4 separate regions of the Homo sapiens genome follow, and all the other regions are linked to region 3. Evidence: fine-mapped QTL for protein levels in blood plasma. Region 3 holds a variant in brackets. A gene starts in each other region. All regions are shown on their forward strands. Region 1 holds the start of QPCT (glutaminyl-peptide cyclotransferase). Region 2 holds the start of FCRL5 (Fc receptor like 5). Region 3 holds the start of TNFSF13 (TNF superfamily member 13). Region 4 holds the start of LY96 (lymphocyte antigen 96).

Evidence for each region. PIP is the posterior inclusion probability: the model's chance that the variant is causal. The UK Biobank Pharma Proteomics Project read protein levels with antibody pairs (Olink). The fine-mapping took linkage between variants from a reference panel, not from the people measured, so its PIPs are less certain.
Region 1: QPCT starts here. The variant in region 3 is fine-mapped to the plasma level of the QPCT protein (UK Biobank, PIP above 0.99).
Region 2: it holds the start of FCRL5, and the variant in region 3 is fine-mapped to the plasma level of the FCRL5 protein (UK Biobank, PIP above 0.99).
Region 4: it holds the start of LY96, and the variant in region 3 is fine-mapped to the plasma level of the LY96 protein (UK Biobank, PIP above 0.99).

Annotation. Positions count from the first base shown.
Region 1 is chr2:37,340,631-37,345,751 of GRCh38, forward strand. QPCT (glutaminyl-peptide cyclotransferase) reads left to right here and starts at 4,000. Exons shown (of 7, transcript NM_012413.4): 1 at 4,000-4,221. The coding sequence starts at 4,102. It overlaps LOC124907754 (a long non-coding RNA gene), which reads right to left and starts at 4,425. Exons shown (of 2, transcript XR_007086284.1): 1 at 3,097-4,425; 2 at 1-97. RefSeq lists a silencer at 4,371-4,430.
Region 2 is chr1:157,550,031-157,555,176 of GRCh38, forward strand. It overlaps FCRL5 (Fc receptor like 5), which reads right to left and starts at 2,485. Exons shown (of 17, transcript NM_031281.3): 1 at 2,302-2,485. The coding sequence starts at 2,332.
Region 3 is chr17:7,557,098-7,562,223 of GRCh38, forward strand. TNFSF12-TNFSF13 (TNFSF12-TNFSF13 readthrough) reads left to right here. Exons shown (of 11, transcript NM_172089.4): 7 at 2,527-2,605; 8 at 2,749-2,796; 9 at 2,952-3,070; 10 at 3,253-3,391; 11 at 3,627-4,504. The coding sequence ends at 3,736. TNFSF12 (TNF superfamily member 12) reads left to right here. Exons shown (of 7, transcript NM_003809.3): 7 at 2-784. The coding sequence ends at 253. TNFSF13 (TNF superfamily member 13) reads left to right here and starts at 1,653. Exons shown (of 6, transcript NM_003808.4): 1 at 1,653-2,200; 2 at 2,527-2,605; 3 at 2,749-2,796; 4 at 2,952-3,070; 5 at 3,253-3,391; 6 at 3,627-4,504. The coding sequence starts at 1,943. The coding sequence ends at 3,736. It overlaps SENP3 (SUMO specific peptidase 3), which reads left to right and starts at 4,822. Exons shown (of 11, transcript NM_015670.6): 1 at 4,822-5,126. It also overlaps SENP3-EIF4A1. RefSeq lists enhancers at 403-1,196, 782-841, 1,652-1,701, 4,076-4,325 and a silencer at 4,886-4,965. The variant A/G (reference allele first, on the strand shown) is at 2,555.
Region 4 is chr8:73,988,583-73,993,728 of GRCh38, forward strand. LY96 (lymphocyte antigen 96) reads left to right here and starts at 2,810. Exons shown (of 5, transcript NM_015364.5): 1 at 2,810-2,972. The coding sequence starts at 2,861. RefSeq lists enhancers at 3,052-3,151, 3,522-3,591.

The sequences.
Region 1 (5,121 bases), not on the chromosome of region 3:
TTTGATTTCTACGTCTTATTTTCCCATGTGAGTATAAAGAGCTGCATACTCTCAATTTGTGCTTCCAGTTAAGATGGAACTGGATTTGTCATCCCACCTAAAATATATTAAAAATGACATTCACAATGGATTGGATAAAGAAAACGTCACACACACACACACACACACACACACACACACGCACACACACACACACACCCTGGAATACTACCAGCAATTAAAAATAACAAAATTTTGTCTTTTGTAACAACATGGATGGAACTGGAGGCCATTATCTTTAGTGAAACAGCTCAACTAGCACATGTTCTCACTTATAAGTGGAAGCTAAATAATGTGTACACAATGACATGAAGAGCTGAATAATAGACATTGGAGACTTGGAAGGGTGGGAGGGTAGGAGGGATGAGAAATTACCTGATGGGTAAATGTATACTATGTTTTCAGGTGATGCTTACACTAAAAGCCCAGACTTGTCCACTATGCAGTATATCCATGTACCAAAACTGCTCCTGTACTCTCTAAGTGTATAAAAATTTTTAAAATGATGCTTAAATATTGGAAAAGAGGTATCACAGGAAAGTGGTGAGAAAAGGGAAAATGAAATGAGATGAGCCTGATGTTTTCTCCAGCTTACTGCTTTGAGAGTTTCCAGGATGCAGTGCAGGTAGGAGGAGTCCACACAGAGCTGGTGGTCTCCATGAGATGAAAACGCAGACGTGAGGAGCTCTCTCTCCTCCTGTACTCTGTCCTGCTAGATTTAAAATCTAGCTTCATGGAGAGACAGCTTCAGAAGGCAGTAAAACAACAATTTTATTACTTCATCAATGACATTCTTAAGTGAAACTGGCTCTTTTTCTTTTCTTTTATCGTCCTCTTCTTTTTTTTTTTCTTTATGCGTGGCAGTGAAAAATACTAAGATGGCTGGGTATGGTGGCTTACGTCTGCAATCCCAGCACTTTGGGAGGCCGAGGCAGGTAGATCACCTGAGGTCAGGAGTTCGAGACCAGTCTGACCAACATGGTGAAACCCTGTCTCTACTAAAAATACAAAAATTAGCAGGGTATGGTGGTGCATGCCTGTAATCCCATCTCCTCAGGAGGCTGAGATAGGAGAATCGCTTGAACCTGGGAGGCAGAGGTTGTAGTGAGCCGAGATGGCACCATGGCACTCTAGCCTGGGAAATAAGAGTGAAACTCCTTCCAAAAAGAAAGAAAGAAAGAAAAACACAATGACTACAAGTATAGATTTTCCTCCTCAATAGTACAGTTTTGTGTCCTGTATTGACAGTTGCTAAGGTGCCAGCATTTTTACCCATCATTGCTTTTGCAACATCAGTGCAAAGTCTATACAGTAGAAAAAATGAATCTTGTTTTGGTATTATTATAAAAGTTGATTTGACTTTGGAGACAGCCAAGAGGGTCTTGGGGAATCCCCAGTATCCATGGACCACACTTTTGAAAACTATTGTTTTAATAGAACCTTCTGGTCATTACTACTTTGATCTAATGGCGCCACTTTAAAGGTGGGACTGGGTGTAGGAACATCCTGCCATGGCAGCTTCATGGAGAAGATCTGTTTTGGCAATTGGGTCCTTCATTTCCTTCACATCACAGTATGGAATCTATACTATAATGGAGGTAAAAATTTCTCCACTTGAGAACAGTGTTATCACTGTATATACAACACATTTTTTCCATGATGAAAAACAGGGTCTGAAACTTTAATTAAAATGGAAAAGTCATTAGTTATCTTCCATGGGAAGAGTTTGAAGAAAGGAAAAGTTGAAGTAGGGCAAAAATAGCAGATATAAGGTATTTCTAAACGTTTCCCAAATGAAGGAAGAGAGAAAAGAATGAGCGAAGGAAAGGAAAAGGGTATTTAGTGTGTAAGACACTAGAAAAGATATGCATAAGGAATGAAGTGATACATACATAGTGGTGTTGGATTTGTAGATTCTTGGAAAGTTGGCAGAAAAGCTTACATGTAAAAAAAAAACCAATGTATTGAAATCAGTCTCACTAGCTATGTGGAATGTTTTAGATTTGTACCAGATACAATACGTTTGTGGTGGATACAGGAGATGCGCTGCCCAGATCTGCCCCCAGGGAAGGACCCTGCTCCAGCTGTTGGAGGCCGGCTGGCCCACAGCCTCTAGCAGTCAAGCTCTTTTGGCTGGAAAGCCGCTTGCAGGAAATCACTCCATGGAGGTGCAGAGATAAGGCCCCAGACATTTTGGCCCAGTATGGGACAACTTTGACCGTCTTTTTCAGCTTCAGGACTCCCATGGAGTTGGGTGAGGTTGTTGGGCCCGCTTTGCTGCTAACTTCTCCCTCTGTTCTCTCCTGTTCCCCTTCTTCCTCCCACAGGGGTTTGTCCCAAGGGCACTCCCTAATACACATCCTGCATGTTAAACTCTTGTCTCAGAGTCTGCTTCCTGTAGATACCAAACTGTAAGAACATCTTATTGACTTAAATATAACCAAAATTGGAGAAACTTAGGAAACAAAATCATCATTACGTTATGTGCTGACATTTTAGCTTATTTCTATATTTCTTGTTTTGAATTGCTCATACTTAGCATGATAGTACCTCTCACATTTTGTTTCATTTAGGTTTGCTATTTCCACGTTCTCTTTCTTATAGGAACCATATTGTGAAAAGACATAAAGGTAATAGGGTAAAAAAAAGCAAATAGGCTCTTTATTACCCAGCCACTCAGGAAATGCACTATTTCAAGGTTGACCCAGGCAGCAAGAGAGGAGCTGTATTGGGGAATGTGACAGTGGTTTAGTTCTGAAACTGGAGCCAGTAGAAAGTTCTGAAGGGGGTCCGATGATCAGAACTGTCTGTGGGTTTAATAAAGGTGTATTTAATTTTATTTAAGCCTGGAGATTTAAATTGTCACTCAAAACTCTCAGACATGAATAGGGTTAGCAAATCTGTACACCAGGAAAGGAGTTATTTACATCCTGTCTTCTCCTACAGCTCCAGAGGAGGGCAGAACAGTGTATTTCCAGGCAAGCCCTCTCTTTAAAAACTCATAGCCAAGGCTGGGAAGACAGAGTGAGTGGGTGGGCCTTCTGGCAGCTTCCTTACCTTCAAATCTTTGCTCTCTGTGAAATGGTTCTGCTTCAGTATCCTTGTTCTGATTTTTCTGGGAACTAGATGTTACTGGGAGATGACTCAGAGCAGGCCAAGCCCTGATCCTCACTGTGGAAGCAAAAGAGGCTGGTGAAAGTCACTGTCCTGACAACTTGGACCAGAAACCTACAGACAAAACTGAAATGTTTTCCTGCCCTAGGATTATCTGGATAACAATGACCTTTGATGTTACAAAGTAAATAGAATTGTGTTTGGCTTTTCCTTTTGGGGCCATGCCTTGGAGAAGATGACTCCTTCAGAGCCGCTGTGAATATTGTAGATCTCATTATTTCAGATAATTACTTTGACCATCCTTTTCAATTTGAGAGTATGATGTGAGGCAAGGCAACTATTTGTGAGAAAAAAGAGAAAAGGCAAAGATCCACTGTCATACTTTTGCTTGTGGGTTCCAGTCCAGGCTTTCTATGGGGGGTGGGGGGGTGTCTCAGTCTCCCCGTCTGTAAAATGGGATTAGTGGATTAAATCCGGGAAGGTTGGACAAGCACCTAGGACGGTGCCTGGTGCCGTGTTCAGCAGACGTCGATTCCCTGTCCACCCCTTCTTTAGGAGCTGTGGGAAACACTTCATAACTCCCCAGGGTCTGGTGAACCCTTCCTCCCTTTTCTGTTCCCTGTTTTGGCATTGGAGATCATAAAAAGGCTCTTCCATGTCTCTTGCTTCCTTCCTTTCATCTTCTCCAAGAGAAGGAAGTGGCCGCCTTTGTTAGCTTGGGTTCAGAAGCTTGTGTCTGTCACCCAGGGCCGCCCAGCCCCGGGGTTTGCGAAGGTCCGGGGTAGGAGGGCTGCAGCCTGCGCGACGCGGCGGGAGGCTACCCGGGGGCGATGGGAAGGCGGGCGCAGTCGACCCAAGGGTGGAGAAGAGGGAAGGCGAAGGACGCGCGTTCCCGGGCTCGTGACCGCCAGCGGCCCGGGGAACCCGCTCCCAGACAGACTCGGAGAGATGGCAGGCGGAAGACACCGGCGCGTCGTGGGCACCCTCCACCTGCTGCTGCTGGTGGCCGCCCTGCCCTGGGCATCCAGGGGGGTCAGTCCGAGTGCCTCAGCCTGGCCAGAGGAGAAGGTGAGGGGCTGTTTCTGCGTAGTTGTACTTGAGCGGCTCTGGTCCGATGCGAGGACCCCTGGCCGGGTCAGCCCTACCTAGGCAGAGCGGGAGGCGGGGCAGGGCCACGGTCCCCAGCCCAGGCACCGGCGCCCCACCCGGCGCCCGGAGGAGTCGGGGCTCTGCATACTCGCCGGGGTGCCTCGGCCAGTCCGGGGCTGTTCTGGAGACGCCAGGGGGGCTGGGTGATGTCACTGGCCTCTCCTGGGCTGCGGTCTGATGGGGGTGCTGATAGGCACAGGAAATGTGTCTCGCCGGCGGCTGCTGAGCCGGGAGGCGAGGGCGCATCGCGGCGCCACCCCCCACTCGGGACCCTGGAGGGCAACGGGGCCGGCGCTCCGGGGCCGCTAGGGTGCGGGGTGCGCCTGGGGGTGTGCCCACAGCCCCCCCGCTGCTTCATCCAAGGATGCTGCTGGGGCGCTGAAGTGTCCCTACAGTCTCAGGACGGATGTGTGTTGTTTGTTTTAGATTTTTAAAAGGAGCAACTCGGCAGGAAGGACCTTTACTGGAGACCTGCTTACTTCAAAAGCCTTTTTCCTCCACTTAAAAGAGGGTACCTGCTATTTTCAGAGAAAATGGATCTAGTTGTAGGTAGAAATCGCATATAAGGAACTTAGGATAAAAGTGATTTGCAAGTTCCCTCTGTAAGAAGTGTATGGGTTCGGCCGGGCGGGGTGGCTCACGCCTGTAATCCCAGCACTTTGGGAGGCCGAGGCGGGTGGATCACGAGGTCAGGAGATCGAGACCATCAGGGCTAACATGGTGAAACCCTGTCTCTACTAAAAAATACAAAAAATCAGCCGGGCGTGGTGGCACGCACCTGTAATCCCAGCTACTCGGGAGGCTGAGGCAGGAGAATGG
Region 2 (5,146 bases), not on the chromosome of region 3:
TTCACAAAACTGTGAGTGAGAACATGAGTCTGCAGGTGGATGTTAGCATTTGTGTGTGGTAAGAGGCGATTTCTACCTTTCAAGGTAGAAAGGGCACAGAAGTGGAGAAATGACATTGGTGCTCAGGAACTGGGAGTGTTGGGGGAAATAAGACCAGAGAAGCATGCAGGGCCTGAGTAAGTGGTTCTAATTTTATTATAAAAGTGATAAGGAGTCATGGAATGGTTTCAAGGAGGAGATTGACAAGGTTAGAATTTCAGACTTTGATGGAGCACTCTGTCAGTGGACAGAATTTAATGGGACAATATGAAGCAGGGAGACTGATTAGAAGGCAGGGCAAGGAAATGGACATGAATTAAGCCTCCCTTGGGCACCAGACTCCAGGCTATACTCTTTTCATGAGATCATTGAATCCAAGGGCTCATTATCATCATGCCTAATTTTTAAACAATCAACTGATGCTCAGATTATTTAGACCTGATGCTCAGCCCAAGAGATGGTAATGTGTAATTTTTGTCAGAGTATTTATCCAAATTATCTTCATTATCTGCTTGTTTATTTTCCCTTCTCTATAATGCAAGCTCTATGAGACCTAGGACTTTCCTTATGTTCACCATATATCCTCCAGGACCTATAACGGTGAATGGCATATAAAAGATATTCCTTTAATGTTCACTAAATATATTTGTGTTGTATAATGAATTAATTAAAGAACTAGGTTAATAATATAGGAATAGAAGGATAGAGATTTGAGAAATGGGTAATGAAGAGAGAGAGGACACAAAACTGGCAGGTTTATCAATTGAGTAGGTATTCTGCATATGGGTTGATTTATTTATTCAACAGATTTTTGGAATGCCAATCATACTCCAGAGCAAGGCAATAGAAATCCAGGAGTGTGTGAGAGACAAATCATCCCTGTCCACATGAGGCTATTGGAGACTTATCCAAACTTAAGTGTTTTACTGAGAACAACAAATTATTCACCATTCACCTGAATATTTTGGCTTCCTTCATCTTTGCATTGTTTTAAATGAAGCTAATATTTTTGTGAGTGGTTTCTATATGGTCTGCATTTACGTAGGTTATTTCATATAACCATGTCAATAATCCTGTGAGGTAAGCACTAGGATTAACTGCATTTTGTAGACCAGGAATCTGGTAGCCAGTAGGTGGCAAGATGAAGTTTGAACCTAGATCCTGTTTGACCCCAGAGCCCATGTTATAAACTTTGCCCTCTCATGCTCAGGACCTGGCCATTACCCACATTGTGTGGGGCCACACTGAGATGTATTCCTACTTCAGGAATTATAGTCCATGCACCTTCCAACTGTGAGGTCCTCTTTTCTTATATCACGCCTGCTCCATTTCTGCTCCTCTAGCTCCTACTCACCTCTAAGTTTCATGAAGTCTTTACTAGCTATTTTGAATACAGTTTATTATCTGCCTACAGCATTCATTGGTAACTTTGCCTGGACAATTATTTAACTGGGAGCTTGTTGCATAGCTGCTTGAAAGTACATTGGCCTTGCTGGGAGCCCTTCTATGTCATGACTTTCCAGAACATAGACGTAGTGTCTCCTATGGACTCTAATTGCTCAGCACCTGTGCATAGATATTACTAAACACATTTGCTGAACAAATAAATAAACATATTTAATTATAATATTTAACCTTTAGTAAAAATCAACCAGTTCGCACATATGAGTTGATAGAGACTTACGTACACCCACAGGGACAAAGAGAAAGTCATATGCTTTAGATTTATCCTTGCTTTGTCCACCTACGCCTCTGCGACCTCCTCCACCCCATGTTCTTAATCAGCCAATTGCTGCAGTGGTTTGCAATTATGTACAAGAGAAAGACCTGTCTTTCCCGTTAGAAACCTTGCCTCTTATGCTGGGGACCAGGATCTGGCCTTGTCATACAAGGAATAAATACATCTCCTCTGCAGAGAGGAGAGTGGGCTCTTCTATGAGTAAGACAATATGAACAAACAAACATGAAACATTCTCTGGACTTTAAGAAGTACTTTTTAAAGAAAAAAATAAATGAAATTTTAATTGTTGTGGTTATTGTGGTTTCCTACTCTGTAAGATTGAAAATTCCTTCCAGCTGTGGCCATTTTCTTCAGCCTCAAGAGAAAGCCCTGAGCTACAGAGTAAAGTTCAAAAATACAGTCTCCTAATGTAGGAGAGAGTCTCTCAGCAGGGGCTGAGCCCCAAGAAAGGACCAGGCCTGCGGTGGAGAGAGAAGCTGTCCCGATCCCACCCAGGGCCCATGGTGAGCCCTTTTACTCACCCAGGACCAGTAATATCACCCACAGCAGCATGAAGACCTGGACCACCAAGGGCTGAGATCAAAAGAGAAGTTTCCTCAATTCCAAAACAGGTTTGGACTTGATCTTACAGTCAGGACACTGCACACCAGCTCCAAGGAGCACATCTGAGAAGCTGTGCTCTCAAAAAGAGCAGAATGCATTAGTGAATTGAAAAAAGGAAGTGGGAGTACCCGTCTTCAGCTGCTAATCACAGTTTCCTACCCGATGATCAAAGAAAAAAAAAAGTTAAGGTTTTAAAAAATCAAATACCCTTGACCCTACATTTTTGCTATTGGGAAATTACCCTGAAGGAAGTATCTGAAGAGAGTACTATAAGAACGTTTATTGTAGCATTCATTATTGCCTAAACACTGGAAACAAAACAAAAAACCATGATATGGGGACTGTTTAAGAATATTCTGATTCATCCGTATGGTGACAAGCAATCATTAAAGAATAAGGTAAATCTGAACATGCCAAGAAGGGAAGACCACCTTGTTTGATGTGAAGAGAATAAAAGTGAGATATAGATTGGTTTTGTAGTATTATCCCATTGGGTAAATATAAAAAATAGGATATATGTGTACATCAACTCTTTTAAGTATACTTTCTTCTTTTCCTGGAAAGTACACACAAAAATATTGATTATGTTTGAGGAGCAATAGGTGGGAAGAACACAATTTATTTTATGTATTTCTGTACCGTTTGATTTTTTAAAAAATTACCAGGTGAATGTATAGCTCTTATGATTTTCTAAAAGTCAAGTTTCCATCCTGGTATACTGGTCAACAGAGGTTCCTAAGACATTAGCTGCCACGAGGAGTGCCAGTTTCTTTCTTTCAAATATTTTCTCACCCTTTCTCTCTGGGCCCATACCTTGGTCTTCCTAAGGGGGCATTTAATTTTATATCTACAAATGCACATCACCTTAGGTATATTATGTCACATCTGACCCACTGCACCCTGAGGCAAGAAAACCATACAGGGGTTACAGGGGTGAATAGAGATTAAGAGGAGAACTTCAAAGGGAACACAGAATCTTTACCTACTTTTGGTGCTAAAACAAATAGTGCTGCTATGAACATTCTTGTATACATTTATTGGGGCATATGCGCACATAATTCTGTTGGGTATATATCTGGGAGTGGAAGTCCTGGCTCATAAGGTATGCATATATTCAGTTTAGGAAGTATTACCAAATTATTTTCCAAAGTGGTTGTGCCAATTCCCACCACACCCACCAACCAATGTATGAGAGTTATCATTGTTCTAAAATTCTTGCTGATATTGGTATTGTCATCTAGTAAAATCTGGCCGTTCTGCTAGAATTATCTCAATGTGGTTTTAATTTGTATGTCTCTGGTGAATTTGAGAATGAGCATTTTTTCATAGTCTAATTGGTGATGTAGATATCCTTTTTATGTGCAATCTCTGTTCAAATATTTCCTCATTTTTCTCTTAACTTTCAGTCTTTCTTTTCCTGTTTTGTAGTTATTTTAAACCCTGAATATAAACCTTTTGTTGGATATATGTATTGCAAATGTCTTCCTTCAATCTGTGGCTTGCTTCTTTGCTCATTGATAGTGCCTTTTGATGAACAACCATTCTAACTTTGACATAGTCCAGTTTATCAGTCTTCTCCTTTGTGGTTAGAGATTTTTGCATCCCTTCTAAGAAAGTTAGTCTACTCCAAGATCATAAAGATACTCTCCCAGGTTATCTTCTAGAAACTTTATTTTTTACCATTTATTTTATATTTATAAGAGCATTGCAATTGATTTTTGTGTACAGTTTGAGTGTTTATATTCACTTTTAACTTAAATACAGATAATTTATCCTGCCCTATTTATTGAAAGTTGATTTTTTCCACAGTACAGTGCAATTTCACCTTTGTTATAAAACAAAAAGCCATGTAGGTCTATTTTTGGAAACTCCTTTCTTGTCCATTAGTCTATTTTGTCTATCCTCATGCCAATACCACACTCTTCTAATTATTGTGGCTTTATAATAACTCTTATTAACTGATAGTTTAAGTCATAAAATGCTGTTCTTCTTCAAAATTGTTATGGCTATTTTTGGCTTTTTGAATTTTTCTATACATTTAAAAATCACCTTGTCAATTCCTGTCCCCTCTCTCCCCAAAAGCCTAGTAGATTTTTAATAACTGGGATTGCATTGGATTTATAAGTTAATTTGTATAAATTAGAAAAGATTTAGTCTCCCAATCCATAAACATACAATATCCCCTCATTTATTTAGGTTAACTTGACATTCTTTCAGTAATTTTCTATAGCTTTGCCTCTGGAAAGTATATCTTTTGGTAGGTTTATCCTTAGGTTATTGATATGTTTTTTATGATATTGTAAGTGACATCATTAGATTTTTTTCTAAATGTATATTGGTATATAGAAATATAATACTTTTTTGTTTTACTGACCATTATTTTTATTTTTTTGAGACAGAGTTTTGCTCTTGTCCCCCAGGCTGGAGTGCACTGGTGCGATCTTGGCTCATTGCAACCTCCACCTCCCAGGTTCAAGCGATTCTCCTGCCTTAGCGTCCCAAGTAGCTGGGATTATAGGTGTCTGCCACCATGCCCAGCTAATTTTTGTATTTTTAGTAGAGATGAGGTTTCACCATGTTGGCCAGGCTGGTCTCAAACTCCTGACCTCAAGTTATCTGCCCGCCTTGGCCTCCAAAAGTGCTAGGATTACAAGCGTGAGCCACCATGCCCGGCCTTACTGACCTTTTAATATCTACTAAAATTGCGGAATTTACTTATTAATTTTAATAGTTTATCTTTAGGTTATTTTAGATTTCATGCAA
Region 3 (5,126 bases):
GGTGCACTTTGATGAGGGGAAGGCTGTCTACCTGAAGCTGGACTTGCTGGTGGATGGTGTGCTGGCCCTGCGCTGCCTGGAGGAATTCTCAGCCACTGCGGCGAGTTCCCTCGGGCCCCAGCTCCGCCTCTGCCAGGTGTCTGGGCTGTTGGCCCTGCGGCCAGGGTCCTCCCTGCGGATCCGCACCCTCCCCTGGGCCCATCTCAAGGCTGCCCCCTTCCTCACCTACTTCGGACTCTTCCAGGTTCACTGAGGGGCCCTGGTCTCCCCGCAGTCGTCCCAGGCTGCCGGCTCCCCTCGACAGCTCTCTGGGCACCCGGTCCCCTCTGCCCCACCCTCAGCCGCTCTTTGCTCCAGACCTGCCCCTCCCTCTAGAGGCTGCCTGGGCCTGTTCACGTGTTTTCCATCCCACATAAATACAGTATTCCCACTCTTATCTTACAACTCCCCCACCGCCCACTCTCCACCTCACTAGCTCCCCAATCCCTGACCCTTTGAGGCCCCCAGTGATCTCGACTCCCCCCTGGCCACAGACCCCCAGGGCATTGTGTTCACTGTACTCTGTGGGCAAGGATGGGTCCAGAAGACCCCACTTCAGGCACTAAGAGGGGCTGGACCTGGCGGCAGGAAGCCAAAGAGACTGGGCCTAGGCCAGGAGTTCCCAAATGTGAGGGGCGAGAAACAAGACAAGCTCCTCCCTTGAGAATTCCCTGTGGATTTTTAAAACAGATATTATTTTTATTATTATTGTGACAAAATGTTGATAAATGGATATTAAATAGAATAAGTCATAGTCTCTCTCTTTATTGGGGCTCAGGGGACACTCTCAGGGTAGCTGGGGGCCACGTGAAGGGGGGCGTTGCGGAGCGGCACAGCTGGAACTCCGGGATGATGTTCAGGCTTGGGGGCGGGGACCTCCATGCCTCCAGCCCCCAGGTGGGAGCAGAGGTAGGAAGGCACACTGCCCAGGAAAAAAATCAATCCTCCGCCCAAGGTACAGCAGAAGCGGCCTCCTTGGCCTAGGAGGCAGACTTCCTCCTGCGGGGAAATCCCTTCCTGGCTGGGAGGAGCAGGGGCCCTTCCTCTTGGTGGCCTCGGACATTCAGCAGGTGCTGGCACAGGCCCTGGCTGGGAGGTGGGGCGGGCAGGAGCCAGCCTGGAGGAGGGGCTGAGAGTCAGCAGGCACACGGGAACCCGGAACCCTGTGTGCTGGGGAGGAATCCCGCAGTGGCCGGGGGGCTTGAGGCCGCTGCTTTGTCTCTTCGTCCAGAGCCTTATGTAAGAGCTTTTCTCGGGAAACAGGAAGTCCTGCTTGCCAATTTCAGCACAGGGAGTAGTGCAGGCCTTATTCCAACACACCCGGCCCAGCCTTAACCCCAGAACTCAGCCAGTTTCTTGCTTCCGTGCCCCTGGTTCTCCTCCCCATCGAGCCCACCCCTCCTTTCCCACCTTCAGTCACCCCTAGTGAACTGCCCCAGCGATCTCTGCTGTGCTTGACCCCGAGGGTCTTCCACCCTCGCCCTGACCCTGGACACTGCCCAGCTTGGCCCCCCATCCTGCTCCTGGCACAATGCCCTCTAGCCAGCCAACCTTCCCTCCCCCAACCCTGGGGCCGCCCCAGGGTTCCTGCGCACTGCCTGTTCCTCCTGGGTGTCACTGGCAGCCCTGTCCTTCCTAGAGGGACTGGAACCTAATTCTCCTGAGGCTGAGGGAGGGTGGAGGGTCTCAAGGCAACGCTGGCCCCACGACGGAGTGCCAGGAGCACTAACAGTACCCTTAGCTTGCTTTCCTCCTCCCTCCTTTTTATTTTCAAGTTCCTTTTTATTTCTCCTTGCGTAACAACCTTCTTCCCTTCTGCACCACTGCCCGTACCCTTACCCGCCCCGCCACCTCCTTGCTACCCCACTCTTGAAACCACAGCTGTTGGCAGGGTCCCCAGCTCATGCCAGCCTCATCTCCTTTCTTGCTAGCCCCCAAAGGGCCTCCAGGCAACATGGGGGGCCCAGTCAGAGAGCCGGCACTCTCAGTTGCCCTCTGGTTGAGTTGGGGGGCAGCTCTGGGGGCCGTGGCTTGTGCCATGGCTCTGCTGACCCAACAAACAGAGCTGCAGAGCCTCAGGAGAGAGGTGAGCCGGCTGCAGGGGACAGGAGGCCCCTCCCAGAATGGGGAAGGGTATCCCTGGCAGAGTCTCCCGGAGCAGGTGAGTGAGGGGAGGAGGGTGTCTGGGAGAGGATGGTTAGCATGGGGGGTCTCTGGGCCTCCTGGTCTGCAAAGTTTCAAGGGGGTGCAAGAGAGGGTCTCCGGTTTGGAAGTCAGGGGCGCGGCCATTCCAGGAAAGGAAACTGTTAAAGGTTAATGCTTCTCATACCTAACAAATCCTGGAGGGCAGCCAGCACCAACACTCAGGGTGCTGGGAAAAGGTGCGTGAGAGATCTGAGGCATCTCGGGGGCAGGGGAGGGCTGGGAAGGCAGGCTGGCTGGGACCCTCGCATCTTAACCTAACCTTGACCCTCTTTCCATGAGCAGAGTTCCGATGCCCTGGAAGCCTGGGAGA[A/G]TGGGGAGAGATCCCGGAAAAGGAGAGCAGTGCTCACCCAAAAACAGAAGAGTGAGGCTTCCAGGGTGCAGCAGGGGTGGGAGGTGATCAAGCAGCGTGGGGATTGTAAGCCCGAGTCAGGGTGAGGGTGGAGGCTGCCAACAGCACAACGGGGGAAAGTGGATGCGGCTGAGATTCCCTCCTTCTCTCCTCAGAGCAGCACTCTGTCCTGCACCTGGTTCCCATTAACGCCACCTCCAAGGGTGAGCACTATTTTAAATAATGGCTTTGGGGAGGGGCAATAACCAGGAACTCGGGCTGGCACTTGGGCTCAAGGGGTCCTTATAGGTGAAAGGGAAAGAACCAAAAAGCACCTGAGAGTGCCAAGAAGTCCTGACCGACACACTCTCACCTCCAGATGACTCCGATGTGACAGAGGTGATGTGGCAACCAGCTCTTAGGCGTGGGAGAGGCCTACAGGCCCAAGGATATGGTGTCCGAATCCAGGATGCTGGAGTTTATCTGCTGTATAGCCAGGTAACCCCAGCCACACTCTGAGCTTCACAGAGGGCCTCTTTGGCCCCCTACTGAGGGTTCCTGACCCCTCTATTCATACCAAACCCAGCAGACCCTTCTTTCTTCCCTCGTTAGCGCTCCTGAGGCCTCCCAGAACTGAGCCAGGCCATCCTGTTTTCTTCAACATCTCCCTTCCCTGCCAGGTCCTGTTTCAAGACGTGACTTTCACCATGGGTCAGGTGGTGTCTCGAGAAGGCCAAGGAAGGCAGGAGACTCTATTCCGATGTATAAGAAGTATGCCCTCCCACCCGGACCGGGCCTACAACAGCTGCTATAGCGCAGGTGAGAGCCGTGTGGGCAGCCGAAAGCAGGACGTCTCTGACCGGGGGTAGCAGTGCAGGGAGCTACCGCTAGGAGGGAGGTTGGAAACCTAAACAGAGGCGGGTCTGAGGAGTGAAGTGCAGAATGCCGGGTCCTTACAGGAGGCAGAGGAACGGTGGAGCTGGAGAAGGCAGGGGGAAACAGGGCATCTGGATGGCTGTGCTTCACTGCGAATCTACTTTCTCTCTTTTCTCAGGTGTCTTCCATTTACACCAAGGGGATATTCTGAGTGTCATAATTCCCCGGGCAAGGGCGAAACTTAACCTCTCTCCACATGGAACCTTCCTGGGGTTTGTGAAACTGTGATTGTGTTATAAAAAGTGGCTCCCAGCTTGGAAGACCAGGGTGGGTACATACTGGAGACAGCCAAGAGCTGAGTATATAAAGGAGAGGGAATGTGCAGGAACAGAGGCGTCTTCCTGGGTTTGGCTCCCCGTTCCTCACTTTTCCCTTTTCATTCCCACCCCCTAGACTTTGATTTTACGGATATCTTGCTTCTGTTCCCCATGGAGCTCCGAATTCTTGCGTGTGTGTAGATGAGGGGCGGGGGACGGGCGCCAGGCATTGTCCAGACCTGGTCGGGGCCCACTGGAAGCATCCAGAACAGCACCACCATCTAGCGGCCGCTCGAGGGAAGCACCCGCCGGTTGGCCGAAGTCCACGAAGCCGCCCTCTGCTAGGGAAAACCCCTGGTTCTCCATGCCACACCTCTCTCCAGGTGCCCTCTGCCTCTTCACCCCACAAGAAGCCTTATCCTACGTCCTTCTCTCCATCTATCGGACCCCAGTTTCCATCACTATCTCCAGAGATGTAGCTATTATGCGCCCGTCTACAGGGGGTGCCCGACGATGACGGTGCCTTCGCAGTCAAATTACTCTTCGGGTCCCAAGGTTTGGCTTTCACGCGCTCCATTGCCCCGGCGTGGCAGGCCATTCCAAGCCCTTCCGGGCTGGAACTGGTGTCGGAGGAGCCTCGGGTGTATCGTACGCCCTGGTGTTGGTGTTGCCTCACTCCTCTGAGCTCTTCTTTCTGATCAAGCCCTGCTTAAAGTTAAATAAAATAGAATGAATGATACCCCGGCTCCATTTCCCCCACTGCCTCGCCTCAGCCCGGTCCTCGTACGGGGATCTCCCGCCCTCCTGGCTCTCCTGTGGCGCGCCCCCCGCCGGATCAAGGTACTGGGGATGCCGCTAGGGTCAGGCCCGCGAGCGCGGAGAAGACAGAGCGCGGCGCAAAAGGGAAAGTGGCGGGGCCGCCACGCGCGGCCGGGCGGCGGATGTGCGCAGGCGCAGCCTCGCGTAGCGCTCTGGGCTGGCCAGTCCCGTGGCGCCGGCGTCCTCGGGTAGACGGGACCGCGCGCTTGGTGGCCGCGCCGGCGCTCTTCGCCGGGTGTGACGTACTAATCGTGCGCCACCGCTGCCGGTGGGCCCGGGGCTCGCGGGAGGGGAAGGAGGAGGGGGGGAGGAGTGGCGGCGGCGGCGGTGGCGCTGGTGGCGGCGGTGGCGGAGGTGGAGGTGGAGGTGGAAGCTGAAGCTGAAGCAGAGCCAGAGGCGGCGCGGCGGGGTGCTCGGCGGCGCGGCACGCGGCCCAGAAGCGTTGGAATCCTGAATTGAGACGGCTGCGCCTAAAGACAGCAGGAGTGGCGGGGCCGCCGCCGTCGCCGGAGAGATGAGCCGGGAAGCTTGAGGCCGGAGAC
Region 4 (5,146 bases), not on the chromosome of region 3:
ATGGGGTTTCACCATGTTGGCCAGGTTGGTCTTGAACTCCTGACCTCAGGTGATCTGCCCGCTTTGGCCTCCCAAAGTGCTGGGATTACAGGCATGAGCCACTGTGCCCAGCCTATGTTGTTTTAAGCCACAAAATCTTTTGGCAATTTGTTACAGCCATTATAGGAAACTAGAAACACCTATCTTTGCTCAGTGGAACCGTCTTCAAATTGGTTATCTAATATAACAAAGTGTTTTAGGCTCATTTTGTACATTTTCTACCCCAGACTCCAAGGAGTCCTGGTTGCTTATAGTGGGAAATGGTATTTTGAGACCACTAAGGGTGTTCATGGGTGGTTGTCTTTTTTTTTTCCATCTTTTAAATTTATTTTAAAATTGTGTTTTTTAAAGAATTTACCATCTTACCCAGTTTTAAGCATAGAGTTCAGTGGTGTTAACTATATTCACCTTGTTGTGCAACAGATCTCTAGAACTCTTTCATCTTGTCAGCTTGAGACTCTATGCCCATTGAACAACTCCCCATTTCCCCCTCCTCCCTTGGACTTTTGCCTTTTTGAAAATGGCAGGGCCAAGAGCCACGGCTCAAACCTGTGGTCCCAGCTGAGCCCAGGAATTTGAGGCTGCAGTGTGTTATAATCACACCTAAGAATAGCCATTGCACCCCAGCATGGGCAACACAGTGAGACTTTATCTCTAAAAAAATGGAAAAAATCACACTTCTGTTGTAAAATATTTTTACCAACGTATGATTATTTTCTTCTTAAGTGTGCAGATTTTTAGGCCAAAACTCCATGCCATTTTTGGCTGCTAACCCTAAGCTATATCCTGTAAAGGATTTCAAGTAGCAAGATATCTAAAGGAATAGCTGTCTTTCTAAAATGGAGTGAGAGTTTTGAAATGAAATACATGTCATAACAAAAGGATGACATTTCATTATTAGGACTCAAAATGTTCTCTTGAGCTCTAGCTTGTTGTAGGTGAATACATTATTAAGACTGGTGGAGTCCCTGCCCACAGCACAGAATTACAGCTAGTGTCCCCTGTTTGGGGTCTTATCTGGCCCTGTTCTGTCCTGTAACTAAACCTGCTGCTGAAAAGAAATAGTTTCCATGAGACTGTTTACTTCAGATCTATAGGTGCAGCTCTCTGGGCCATGATAATTTGATTTGTTGTTGTTATTGTTGTTTTTTGAGATGGAGTCTCGCTCTGTCTCCCAGGCTGGAGTGCAGTGACATAATCTTGGCTCACTGCAAACTCCACCTCCTCGGTTCAAGCAATTCTCTTGCCTCAGCCTCCTGAGTAGCTGGGACTACAGGCACTTGCCACCATGCCTAGCTAATTTTTGTATTTTTAGTAGAGACAGGGTTTCACTATGTCGGTCAAGCTGGTTTCAAACTCCTGACCTCAGGTGATCCGCCCACCTTGACCTCCCAAAGTGCTGGGATTTACAGAGGTGAGCCACTGCGCCTGGCCTGTTTGTTTGTTTTTGAGACCGAGTCTCACTCTGTTGCCCAGGCTGGAGTGTAGTGGCCCAATCTTGGCTCACTGCAACCTCTGCCTCCTGGGTTCAAGCGATTCTCCTGCCTCAGCCTCCCGAGTAGCTGGGATTACAGGTGTGTGCCACCATGCCTGGCTAATTTTTATATTTTTAGTAGAGACGGAATTTCACCATGTTGGCCAGGCTGGTCTTGAACTCCTGACCTCAAGTGATCCACCCACCTTGGTATCCCAAAATGCTGGGATGACAGGCATGAGCCACCGTGCCCAGCTGAGAATTTGTTTTATAAAGCAGGAGGCCCCATCCTCTGGGGGCCGTGGACCAGTACCAGTCCATGGCCTGTTAGGAATCTGGTTGTGGCTTGTTAGGAAGTGGGCTGCACAGCTGGAGGTTAACAGCAGGTGAGCGAGCATTACCACCTGAGCTCCAGCTCCTGTCAGACCAGCAGCAGCATTAGATTCCCATGGGAGCAGGAACCTTGTTATGAAGTATACAAGCGAGGGATCTAGGTTGCGTGCTCCCTATAAGAATCTAATGCCTGATGTTCTGAGGTGGAACAGTTTCACCCTGAAACCATCCCTCCCCATCCCCTCAGTCCGTGGAAAAATTGTCTTCCATGAAACTGATCCCTGAGGCCAAAAATGTTGGGGACTGCTGTTATACAGAGCTGTAGGAGAGAAGAATAATGCAGAGGGAAAAGGAGTGCCTGTCTGTTGAGACTTTCAGGGGGACCTAGGGACTGGTTTTGTTACAGTTGACTGGGAATTGTCTTGTTTATTTTATTTTATTTTTCATTTAAAAAATTTTTTTGAAATGGAGTCTTGCTCTGTTGCCCAGGCTGGAGAGCAGTGGTGCCATCTTGGCTCACTGCAACCTCTGCCTCCCAGATAAAGTGAAGCTCCTGCCTCAGCCTCCTGAATAGCTGGGATTACAGGCATGCACTACCACACCTGGCTAATTTTTGTATTTTTAGTAGAGATGTGTTTCATCATGTCAGCCAGGCTGGTCTTGAACTCCTGACCTCAAGTGATCCACCTGCCTCAGCCTCCCAAAATACTGAGATTACAGGCATGAGCCACCGTGCCTGGCCAAAGTGTCTTGTTTTATTTTTAAGTCTTTGATCACTCTCATTTACAGTAAGTGTTTGAAGAGTACATTCTAAATCATTTTTCTCTCTTCCTTTACAGGAAGTGCTCAAATGTTGAGCACACACACACAAAAAAAGAGGAAACAGTTGGATAGGAACTCAGAAATCATGTGACTGATGACTAAGTTAAATCTTTTCTGCTTACTGAAAAGGAAGAGTCTGATGATTAGTTACTGATCCTCTTTGCATTTGTAAAGCTTTGGAGATATTGAATCATGTTACCATTTCTGTTTTTTTCCACCCTGTTTTCTTCCATATTTACTGAAGCTCAGAAGCAGTATTGGGTCTGCAACTCATCCGATGCAAGTATTTCATACACCTACTGTGGTAAGTAAAACCGCAAAACAAATAATTGTAGCATCAACTATTTTGAGGGTAAGTTTTCACGAGAACCGTACACTGTTGTGGCTGGAACACACGAAACATCAGTGTGTTCCAGCTGCTGTGGCGGACGCTGCCAGCAGGAAAAGCAATAGCTGGCAGCTGCCCCATGAGAATGTTCTCGACCACTCACAGAGCTTGTGAGTCTCTAAACTGTGTTGTGCTTGACCTCCAAGTGCTTCTGTTCCCTGCGTCATCTTTCTCTACCCTGAGCCCAGTTTTTGGTTCTGCCCATTTTTAATAAAACCATCTGCTTCTGAGCTTTCACCTCAGCCTTGACACTTACTAGTTCTTCTTCTTGAGATGGTAGAGCAGTCCCAGCTGCTTCCTGGAGTTGATTTCTGCTCTAAGCTGTGACTCTTGAGTGCTCTTGGAATCATCCCCCTCACTGGATGAAAGCCTGGTTCTGTCACTAGCTGTGTGACCTTAAGCAAAGTACTCCAGCCTTTTTAGCACTGAAGTGAAAGTGATTTTATAGTCTACTTGATAAGGGTGTTGTGAGGTGAAGTTTTTTAGCATAGGGTCACATAGAGACAATAATACTCTTAATTTTTTTTTGGAGTCAGCCATACCCTAATACTATTCACTGGCTGTGTCACTGTCCCCTGCCCCAGCTGCTCATTAGCAAGTGTCCTGGGATCTGAAGGCACAGTGTCAGGCCTGACAGCTGTTTTGGTTCGGTACTTTCCACCGTGCTGCTTACCATGGGTTGGCTGCCCTTTTCCACCCACTAGCAATAGCTGGGAGGTTTAAAGTGGTGCTTCCCAAAATACCAGTTCTTTGAGATTCTTTTGGGAAAATAGGATCTATGACCTAATCATCTGGGAGAGATTTACAGATGTACTTTGGGTTCTGAGAAGTTCTGCAATAAAGGCACCTGTTTAACCACATTTTCAATTTCATTTGTTGTTTGTTTGTTTGTGTTTTAGTCTGGAGTGTATGTTAACTCTCTTGAGAAACATGCTCTGCCAAATGCTAATATAAAGTGACTTTCGGGAAATTGGGATAATTGCCACATGTGAGGAGGAGACTTAGGAGTGTGGCCAGTCACACACCATGGCCCTTCTCCTGGTGGGTTGCACTGAATTCCCTCCAAACGTATGTCTAAAATCTCTCCATGCTGCAAGATCCTTTTGCATTCCCCTCTTCCAGCAAGGCTCCTACTCTACTTGGCCCCCACTTCCCTCTCCTCCTTTGGCTCTTTTGTACCATGTGCTAATTATGCCACTGTGTGTGTGTGTGTGTGTGTGTGTGTGTGTGTGTGTGTGACAGAGTTTTGCTCTGTTGCCAGGCTGGAGTGCAGTGGCGCGATTTCGGCTCACTGCAACCTCTGCCTCCCAAGTTCAAACGATTCCCATGCCTCAGCCTCCTGAGTAGCTGGGACTACAGGTGTGCGCCACCACACCCGGCTAATTTTTTTTTTTTTTGTATTTTAGTAGAGACAGGGTTTCATCATGTTGACCAGGATGGTCTCAATGTCCTGATCTTGTGATCTGCCCACCCCGGCCTCCCAAAGTGCTGGGATTACAGGCGTGTGCCACCTTGCCCGGTTTATGCCACTCTTTATATGGTTTTTATGGATGTAACATTTTGTATTATTATTTAGCTTTCAATCTTTTCTTAACAATAACTCAATTTGTCTTTTTAAAACATTTCACATTTTATCTTATTTTATCATTTATTTTTGAGACAGGGTTTTGCTCTGTTGTGCAGGCTGGAGTGAGTGGCATGATCTCCACTCACTGCAACCTCCACCTCCCTGGCTCAAGCCATCCTCCCAGCTCAGCCTTCCAAGTAGCTGGGACTACAGGCACATGCCACCACACTTGTCTAATTATTAATTAAATAATTTTTTTTGAGTTTCACTCTTGTTGCCCAGGCTGGAGTGCAATGGCATGATCTTGGCTCACTGCAACGACCGCCTCCTGGGTTCAAGTGATTCTCCTGCCTCAGCCTCCCGAGTAGCTGGGATTATAGGTGCCCACCACCACACCCAGCTAATTTTTGTATTTTTAGTAGAGACAGGGTTTTGCCATGTTGACCAGGCTGGCCTCCAACTCCTGACCTCAGGTGATCCGCCCACCTTGGCCTCCCAAAGTGTTGGGATTACAGGCGTGAGC